Linked DNA regions of Homo sapiens: region 2 is linked to region 1. A link means that fine-mapping ties the variant in region 1 to the expression of a gene that starts in the linked region. Tissue or cell type: sun-exposed skin. Region 1 holds a variant in brackets; the other region holds the start of a gene. All regions are shown on one strand. Distances are between the middles of the regions.

Region 1 (4,394 bases):
AATTTAACTTTCCAAAGTCCCATGAATTATATTATTTTAAATGGAACCAGCTTTTAAAGATTAGAAGCTATTTCAAGTGTTAATTTTTGAAACATCTTTATAGTTTAGGATGTAACAATGCTGTTTAAATCCATTAAACCACCGAAGAGCTATTTCTTCCAAATTAATAAGAAAATTTTTGTAGATCATGCCTGGAAGAAATAATTTTTTTTCTTCATAGTTTTGTACTCACCAGGCTGGAGTGTGGTAGCACGATCTCAGCTCACTGCAACCTTTGTCTCCCGGGCTCAAGTGATTCTCCTCCCTCAGCCTCCCAAGCAGCTGAGATTACAGGTGCATGCCACCACTGCCTGGCTAATTTTTTATATTTTTGGTAGAGATGGGGTTTCACCATGTTGGCCAGGCTGGTCTCAAACTCCTGACCTCAAGTGATCCGCCCGCTTGGCCTTCCAAAGTGTTGGGATTACAGGCATGAGCCACCTGAAAATAAAGAATAGCACACTCAGTGAAATAATTATTTCCCATGAATCCACTTCTGCATTTTCCTTCTCTCAAGTTAAATTCTTTTGGATTTCTACTTATGCAAGATTGGGAATTCAAATTAACCACCACTGTCTTTCTATACTTTTTGCCTTTGTAGCCTCAACTATCAGAACATTCAGACTAAAATCAAAATTCTGAGAAACAGAATCATTTAAATAAATACCTTAAATTGACTCTTTAGTTTCATACAGTATTTGAAGACACAGCCTGGGGCTGATATTCAAACTTGAATGAGGATTTTGTCAAAGCGAAGGACAAAGTGACAAAGATTATGTCAAGGTTAGCCCTTCCGAAGAAGTGTTTGCCTCCTCAAAGCACTTACTTGCCTGGCAAAATCTCACTCATTCAAGGCCCAGCTCTAGCGTCAGGTCATTTATGCATCCCTAGTCAGCCACCCTCCTCACCCCCAAGCCCCCCAATCCCCCGCACCTGGAGGAATTCTTGGCCCCGGCCTCTGTGTCCCCGCAGCACTGGGTCTCGTTTGTCTCTGTGACTCTGCACTCATCTTTGAATCCTGAATGTCCAGCTGAAAGCCCAGGAGAGTCGATGCTTCATAGAGGAAGCCCTGAGCCACCGTGGATGTAACAGCCCATCTCAAGGCACCCAAGCAGTTTCCAGGCTCACAGCGGCTGCCCTGCTAGTCTTGGACCTGCAGGAGTCACAAGTCTTTGTGAGGCCACCTCAGGGTTGGCCCTGCCCTCTACCTGGCAGCTCCCTGGGGTCTGGATCTGCTCTTCTTTACTTGGTCCCAAGTTTACAGCTACTGTTGTGAAATGATGAGAACTCTCTAAATAACTTTGTGGTAAGTGGTTCTGGAAAGAGTCTAGTGCTGGCATCCTTCATTCACTCAGCAGTATGTATTGCTATAGGCTAGCACTTTTCTAGGTATTGGGGATAAAACATGAACAACAAACAAATCACCTGCCCTCAAGATGCTTACATTTCTGTAAGAGAGACATATACTTAACAAATTAAGCCAGGTGCGGTGGCTCACGCCTGTAATTCCAGCACTTTGGGAGGCTGAGGCAGGCGGATCACGAGGTCAGGAGTTCGAGACCAGCCTGGCCAACATGGTGAAACCCCGTTTCTACTAAAGATACAAAAAATTAGCCGGGCGTGGTGGCGGGCGCCTGTAATCCCAGCTACTTGGGAGGCTGAGGCAGGAGAATCGCTTGAACCCGGGAGGCAGAGGTTGCAGTGAGCCGAGATTGCGCCATTGCACTCCAGTCTGGGTGACAGGGCAAGACTCCATCTCAAAAAAAAAAAAAAATTAAATTAACATATAATTATGAAATGTTAAAAAGCACAGTGCAGAAAATAATAATACATTCTGCGTGACTCTGAAGCCAGACTACCTGGGTTCACATACTGGCTCTGTCACTTATTAGTTTTGTGATCTTAGGAAAGTTATGCAACCTCTCTGTGCCTCAGTTCTCTCTTCTGTAAAATGCAGATAATAATATTTGCCTCACAGGGCTGTTATGATGTTTAAATGAGTTAATATAAGTAACGTACTGAAAATAGGGCCTGGCTCACAGTGAGTACATTACTCCTGGGTGTTAGCTATCATGACTATTAAGTAATGGGATATGACCAAAAGTAACTAAATGCAGAAGGTTTGAATTACTAAGGGAGAAGGTTTTTCAGAGAAGGTGAGATTTGGACTGAGTCTTGGAGGATGAGAAGACAGCTAGGTAAAGAGCTGGGGGAGACAGGGGTGGGGGGACGCCAGGCAGGATGTTATGGTGCCTTAGGGGTGCTGTAGGGATGCTGAACTGATTTTGAGTCACCTCCAGTGGGACTGTGGCTCTAATTCAAGTCTTTCTGTGTGGCTCCCCCAGATTCCCAAGGAGCACCCCGGCCACCCTTCTGGGCCTCGAGGCTCAGGTGGGAGTGAGGTAACAGGGACACCCCAAGGAGGGCCGCAGGAGGCCCCCAACGAGGAGCTCTGTGAGCTGGCCCCGCAGACGTGAGTCCTAGCCCTGGAGCCCCAGCAGACACAGGACACAGAAAGAGGCCCCTTCCTCATGCAGCCTCCAGGAAGGCCCATGAGGCTCCCACAGGAAAAGCAGTCTTGGACCAC[G/A]AGTTACAAAGCCTGGTAGCCTGGCTCCTCACCTGCCCCACCAGCAGGGCCTGGCCAGCCTCTGCAACCCTCTGGGCAGAGATCTGAGGGACGGGACAGCTGGGGCTGGGGGACGCGGGGAGAGGTGAAGGTCAAGTGGCCGCATGAGGCCCATAGCACTCTCTGCCTTAGGTTGCTCGCTCCCACCATCCCAGGGGTGATGCCAAGTGATTCCAAATAGTGGAGCTCCCAGGTAGCTCAAGAACTGATTCTAACATTCAAACTGCTTTTTTTTTTTTTAAATTAGTTACCTAAACGGTCATTATGGAGATGCAGCTGCCCAGAACAAGCCAGACCAAGTGGCCATGAGGCTGTCTTCTAACTCTGGGGTAATGTCCTGCAGCCGGGGCCTGGCTGGGTTCTTCTCATTGTTGGCTCTTTAACTAAAACCAGTGTTGCTGAATGTGACTGTGAAATTGGCATAATCAAGATCACTTACCTCTTCCTAATGGCATCCTGGGTGTCAGTGCTGGTGATGGCTGGTACTGCTGACGGTTTCCCACTTTCTGCACTCCTGAGAATCTCGGCAGGCGTACCTAGACCGGAGCTTCTCCAACTTCTCCGAGCCTATGAATCACCTGCAGATCTTGTTAAAATGCAGGCTCTGAATCAGTAAGTTTGGGGCGAGCCTGCAATTCTGCATTGCTAACAAGCCCCAGGTGATGCCAAAGCTGCTGGTTCTGGTCTGCGGACCACATTTTAAATTCTGAGGGTCTAGAGATTATTTCATTTCGAATGAATTGGAAATGCTGGGATTACCAACCCCGGGGTCTTAAATGATATTATATTATAATATTATAATAAGCAGTAAACAATGATATAATAATTATGTTGGCTCAGAGCTTTACAGTTTGCAAAGACTTTTTGCAGAGGAAGAGTAGTTTAGAAAGGTGATATTTGTTCAGGGTAAATGATAGGTGATGCCCGGGTCTCCAACTCAGGTGGAGGGGCACCTCCCTGCATTCTGCTAATGTAAATCTGCCTTAAATGTCAGTGGAGGAGTAACCCTGTAAGCTCAGCAATGATAAAATATAAAAATTAAAAAAAAAAAACCATGGGAAAAATGGATGAAAAAACCCTTTTTTTTTAAATTATAAAACTGATACATGCTTATTACAAGAGAAATGAGAAAATAAAGAAAAGTATAAAGAAGAAACTTCCACTGAGAGGAAAATCAATCTAATTTTTTTTTTTTGAGACAGTCTCGCTTTGTTGTCCAGGCTGGAGTGCAATGGTGCGATCCCAGCTCACTGCAACCTCTGCCTCCTGGGTTCAAGTGATTCTCCTGCCTCAGCCTCCTGAGTAGCTGGGATTACAGGCATGTGCCACCACGTGCAGCTAATTTTTGTATTTTTAGTAGAGAGGAGGTTTCACCACGTTGCCCACACTGGTCTAGAACTCCCGACCTCAGGTGATCCACCCACCTCAGCCTCCCAAAGTGCTGGGATTACAGGCATGAGCCACTGCGCCTGGCCCATTGCTAATATTTTAGTGTATATCCTTCCAGTCTTTTTTTCTCCTATATATACATTTTGGCCAAAATAGGATTTTACTATATATATTGTTTTATGCTTTTCATTTAATGTTATATTTTGAGCAGCTCTCCACATCACTTAGAATAAACTATCGCTTCATTTTTGATGACTGTACTATATTTCATTATACTAATGTACTCTGACACATTTAGACAATCTCTTATTGATGGAGATTTAGTTTTTTCCAGTTCTTT
Region 2 (4,394 bases), 22 kb before region 1:
TGGGTATGGTGGCTCATGCCTGTAATCACATCACTTTGGGAGGCTGAGGAGGAGGATCGCTTGAACCCAGGAGTTCGAGATGAGCCTGGGCAACCTAGCATGATCCTGTCTCTACAAAAAAAAAAAAAAAAGAAAAAAAGAAAAAAAAAATTAGCCAGGTGTGGTGGTATATGCCTGTGGTCCCAGCTACTCGGGAGGCTGAGACAGGAGGATTGCTTGAACCCAGGAGGTAGAGGCTGTGGTGAGCCATAATCATGCCACTGTACTCCAGCCTGGGACACAACAAGACTCTATCTTTACAAAATAAATAAATAAATAAAATTTAAAAATTATACTTCTTTGGCTGGGTGTGGTGGCTCATGCCTGTAATCCCAGCACTTTGGGAGGCCGAGGCAGGTGGGTTATGAGGTCAAGAGATCAAGACCATCCTGGCCAACATGGTGAAATGCTGCCTCTACTAAAAATACAAAAATTAGCTGGGCTTGGTGGCACGTGCCTGTACTCCCAGCTACTCGGGAGGCTGAGGTGGGAGATGGCGTGAACCTGGGTGGCGGATGTTGCAGTGAGCCAAGATTGCGCCACTGTACTCCAGCCTGGTGACAGAGTGAGACTCTCTCTCAAAAAAAAAAAAAAAAAAAAAAAAAGACATTATACTTCTTTAAATCAATGTGTTTTAAAGTTTATCACTGGAATTACTTTCAGAAAATTAATTGGTAAGAGTTTTCTAAATGTTCCCAAAGCACAGCAAAGGTCCGTGGTTTACAGCACACACTAGGCTACATCAATGGGAAAATTGGATAAAAAGACAGGGCTAACCTCACCAAAGAGCAAGGAAAACCAGCAAAGTTTTCTGGTAAAACACAGGCAGGAAGTTTCTCCAAATACTGCTTTACTCGCACTTTTAAAAGGCTTTCCTCCCTTCCCCCCAACTTCTAAAATAGTTTCAGGATAACAAATTTGTAACAGCTGGTCATCAAATTCATGCGCACTCCCAAAAGGACGACAGCCCTAAGACTGACTATAAATAATACATCCATCTGGCTCTTGTAGGAGTATTGGATTGACTTGTTGCCCATCACAGTGTCTCCCTTCTGCCACCCCACAATGACAGGGTGAAGCTAGACAGCCTCACTGAATGGTATATGGTTACAGTTGAGGCACTGCATTGTGGGTACCCCACATTTCTGAGATAAAGTTAGCTGATAGAATTACCAGAGCATAATCAAATGCAGTCATTACAGAGGGAGCCTATATCATGTTACCTTTGAAAATATTTTAATCTAGAAACATCATACACTGTATACAAAATTCATGAATCCCTGACGCCTGGGCGTGGCCTTGGACATATTATTCTGAGCCATCTCCTATTTTCTTTCATATGTAAATGTTATTCTTGAGCTAGGAATAGGAGAGAAAGAGAAAATTGAAACAGCCAGACCAAGTGTTTTTGAATGCTCTTAAAAGACAAAAAAAAAAAAAAAGACAAAAGTTTGTATCACATCAGAAGTTCCCTACGTGCTCTTCAAAGCTGATTGCTTGCAGTTAAAAGAACCCAGAAGAAGCAGGCACGCCATGATTTTGAAGCTCCGTTTTTGTTCTGTTATTCAACTGCAGTCAACTTCCAACTGTTGAAAAAAAGATGATTTAGAATTAAAGGGTTGCTTGTCTGTGTCGCAAGGCCCTTCAACTTGTTCACCTGTGATATCCAGAGACTCCAAGATGTTGGTGAGTTTCTATTGCAATTGCCATATTGCCATGGTTTTGCCCTTTGTGTTGACTGTAGCATTGTGCTGTTTGAAGACAGAGCAGCATACTGCTTTGTGTAGTAAAAATTGATGGATAATGTACTTAAAGCTTTTAGATGTACACTATTCACATTCTAAATGACAGATACAAAAAGGAATAATCAGAATTTAGATTGTTGAATCATTGCCTCCAACAGCCAACTCTTACCGTGACAAAGTCAGTAGGGCTGATCTTAGAAGTGTAGGACTTGTGAGTGTTACGTGGTTGTACTAACTGGTACCTTAGTGGAGGGGCAGATAAGGTAAGTAGAAACAATGCCTGCTTTCTCCTCCATGTCTGGGTCCTACACATAGTCCCCAGTTTGCCTGGTTTGTAGAGGTTTAAACACAGAACAGAGGGTGTTGGGAATGAGACAAAGAGATTGTCACAGGAACATGGACCCACGGTTTTCCTTTGGTGATGAAAACAATCCTGTCAATATGGAAAACTGTGTTATCACAAAATGGGCTTAGCGAATAGAAGAAATGTCACCTACCAGCCGGAAACAACAATTCGCTGACCATCTTTGGCCTCTTGCCACTAAGGAGTTTTGGTTTTCCCATCTGTAGAAATTCTTAATTGAGTCCATCAGATTCCCAGTCATCCTAGCCATGGTTACCTTCTTCTCTAAGTTGGCAGGTTAGTGAGCTTAGGCTAGCACTTCAGCATCAAATTTAGACTTCATAATAAAGTAAATCACACAGGGAATAGCTGTCAGCATGGTGACCACCTTGTTGTCCATTCCTACTCAGGGACTGGCCTGAAGTGTTTTCACAGCCTGGGTCACTGTGATGTCCTGGCCCTGTTTGCTCAAAGTGTTCATCTCAGAGTGACTTGTGAGGTATTGCTGAGCACATAATGGTCAAGATAGCTGCATAAGCAGGCGTGGCCCCAAATGTAGTCACCTGACTTCAGAAAATCAATTTGGATTCTACAGAAAGGTTCTGTTGGATTCTGAGTGGAACCTCTTTGGATATGCCTTTGGATTTCAAGATTGAGCCAAGTGTTGACATGGGAAGATGCTCCAGTTCCTCCAGTTATCTCAAAGAAGCTCATTACCTTGCTAAGGGTATGGATTGTCCTTTTCCAGAAAAAATCCTCTTGATATTTTGCATGCACACATGCAAAAAATAATAACAACAGAAGCTGTTTTCCTGTATGTAATGAGAGTGTTCCTCAGGTTTCTGGTTTATCTTAATGGTATCTCACTCCTTTTCTTTTCCTTTCTTTCTTTCTTTGTCTGTGTGTGTGTTTGTGTGTGTGTGTTTATGTGTGTGTGAGAGAGAGAGAGAGAGACAGGGTCTTGCTCTGTCACCCAGGCTGGAGTGCAGTGGCATGATCTCTGCTCACTGCAGCCTTGACCTCCTGGGCTCAACTGATCCTCCATCTCAGCCTCCCAAGTTGCTGGGACTACAGGCATATACCACCACTGCTGGCTAATTTTTAATTTTTTTTTTCTTTGTAGAGACAGGGTCTTGCTTTGTTGCCCAAGCTGTTCTCAAACTCCTGTCCTCAAGGAATCCTTCTGTTTTGGCATCCCAAAGTGCTGAGATTACAGGCATGAGCCACTGTGCCTGGACTTTTTTTCTTTTTCTTGAGAGCCAGAGCAAAATTCAAATTTTATCAGTTTTAATTAATTATATTTTAAAAGTGGGAATTTGGCCAACAAAGTATCTTTCCTTTCTATACAAGAAGGGTATGGCGTTTGGCAATGAGCTCCTGAAAATGTAAAGAAAGCATGAGGATAACTTTGGGACTGATACTTGGGTCATTAAAAGTCTTGCAAAACTAGAATTTGTTTTCTTCTTCTTCCATTCTCTCTGTAGGCATTTAAACATACTCTCAGGCCAGGCACAGTGGCTCATGTCTGTAATCCCAGCACTTTGGGAGGCTGAGGCAGGTGGATTACTTGTGCTCAGGAGTTCGAGACCGTCCTGAATAACATGGTGAAACTCCATCTCTAAAAAAAAAATTAAAAATTAGTCAGGTGTGGTGGTGTGCGCCTGTAGTCCCAGCTACTCAGGAGGCTAAGGGAGGAAGATCAGTTGAGCCATGGTGTTGTCACTACACTCCAGCCTGGGTGATAGAGTGAGACCTTGTCTAAAAAAAAAAAAAAAAAGATACTCTGTTTTTTTTTGTTCTAAAAAATTAGACAATATTTTGTTTAAACTTGCTTAGTGATTTATTTATTTATTTATTATTTTTTATTTTTTTGAGACAGAGTCTTGCTGTTGCTCAGGCTGGAGTACAGCGGCATGATCTCGGCTCACTGCAACCTCTGCCTCCCGGGTTCAAGTGATTCTCCTGCCTCAGCCTCCCAAGTAGCTGGGACTATAGGGATGCACCACCATGCCCAACTAATTTTTGTATTTTTAGTAGAAATGGGTTTTGCCACATTGGCCAGGCTGGTCTTGAACTACTGAGCTCAAGTGATCCACCTGCCTCAGCCTCCCAAAGTGCTGGGATTACAGGCATGAGCCACCTCATCCAGCCTGATTTTTTTTTTTACCTTCAAATATATTTATTTACAGATTGAGTTTTAAAATTGTCTTAAAGTTCTTGTAGAGATTATGTCTTTTTTGTTTTGAGACGGAGTTTCACTCTATCGC

Alleles and levels. Positions count from the first base shown, and alleles are read on the strand shown. Sizes are in standard deviations (SD) of each study's normalised expression.
As copies of G replace A in region 1, the expression in sun-exposed skin of the gene that starts at base 2,689 in region 2 goes up (moderate effect, 0.64 SD a copy in GTEx).

Evidence for each region. PIP is the estimated chance that this variant, and not a neighbour inherited with it, causes the effect.
Region 2: AKNAD1 starts here. The variant in region 1 is the best candidate, but not a certain one, in a credible set for the expression of AKNAD1 in sun-exposed skin (GTEx, PIP 0.83).

What each region holds. Positions count from the first base shown.
Region 1 is chr1:108,833,047-108,837,440 of GRCh38, reverse strand. It overlaps AKNAD1 (AKNA domain containing 1), which reads left to right. Exons shown (of 16, transcript NM_152763.5): 8 at 2,385-2,512; 9 at 2,913-2,994. LOC105378891 (a long non-coding RNA gene) reads right to left here. Exons shown (of 5, transcript XR_947687.3): 3 at 3,105-3,251; 4 at 973-1,192; 5 at 438-480. Among named protein-coding and RNA genes, the nearest start is that of AKNAD1, 22 kb to the left of the region's middle. The variant G/A (reference allele first, on the strand shown) is at 2,627.
Region 2 is chr1:108,855,389-108,859,782 of GRCh38, reverse strand. AKNAD1 (AKNA domain containing 1) reads left to right here and starts at 2,689. Exons shown (of 16, transcript NM_152763.5): 1 at 2,689-2,854. It overlaps SPATA42 (spermatogenesis associated 42), which reads right to left and starts at 2,566. Exons shown (of 3, transcript NR_034168.1): 1 at 2,282-2,566; 2 at 1,516-1,625; 3 at 1,259-1,398.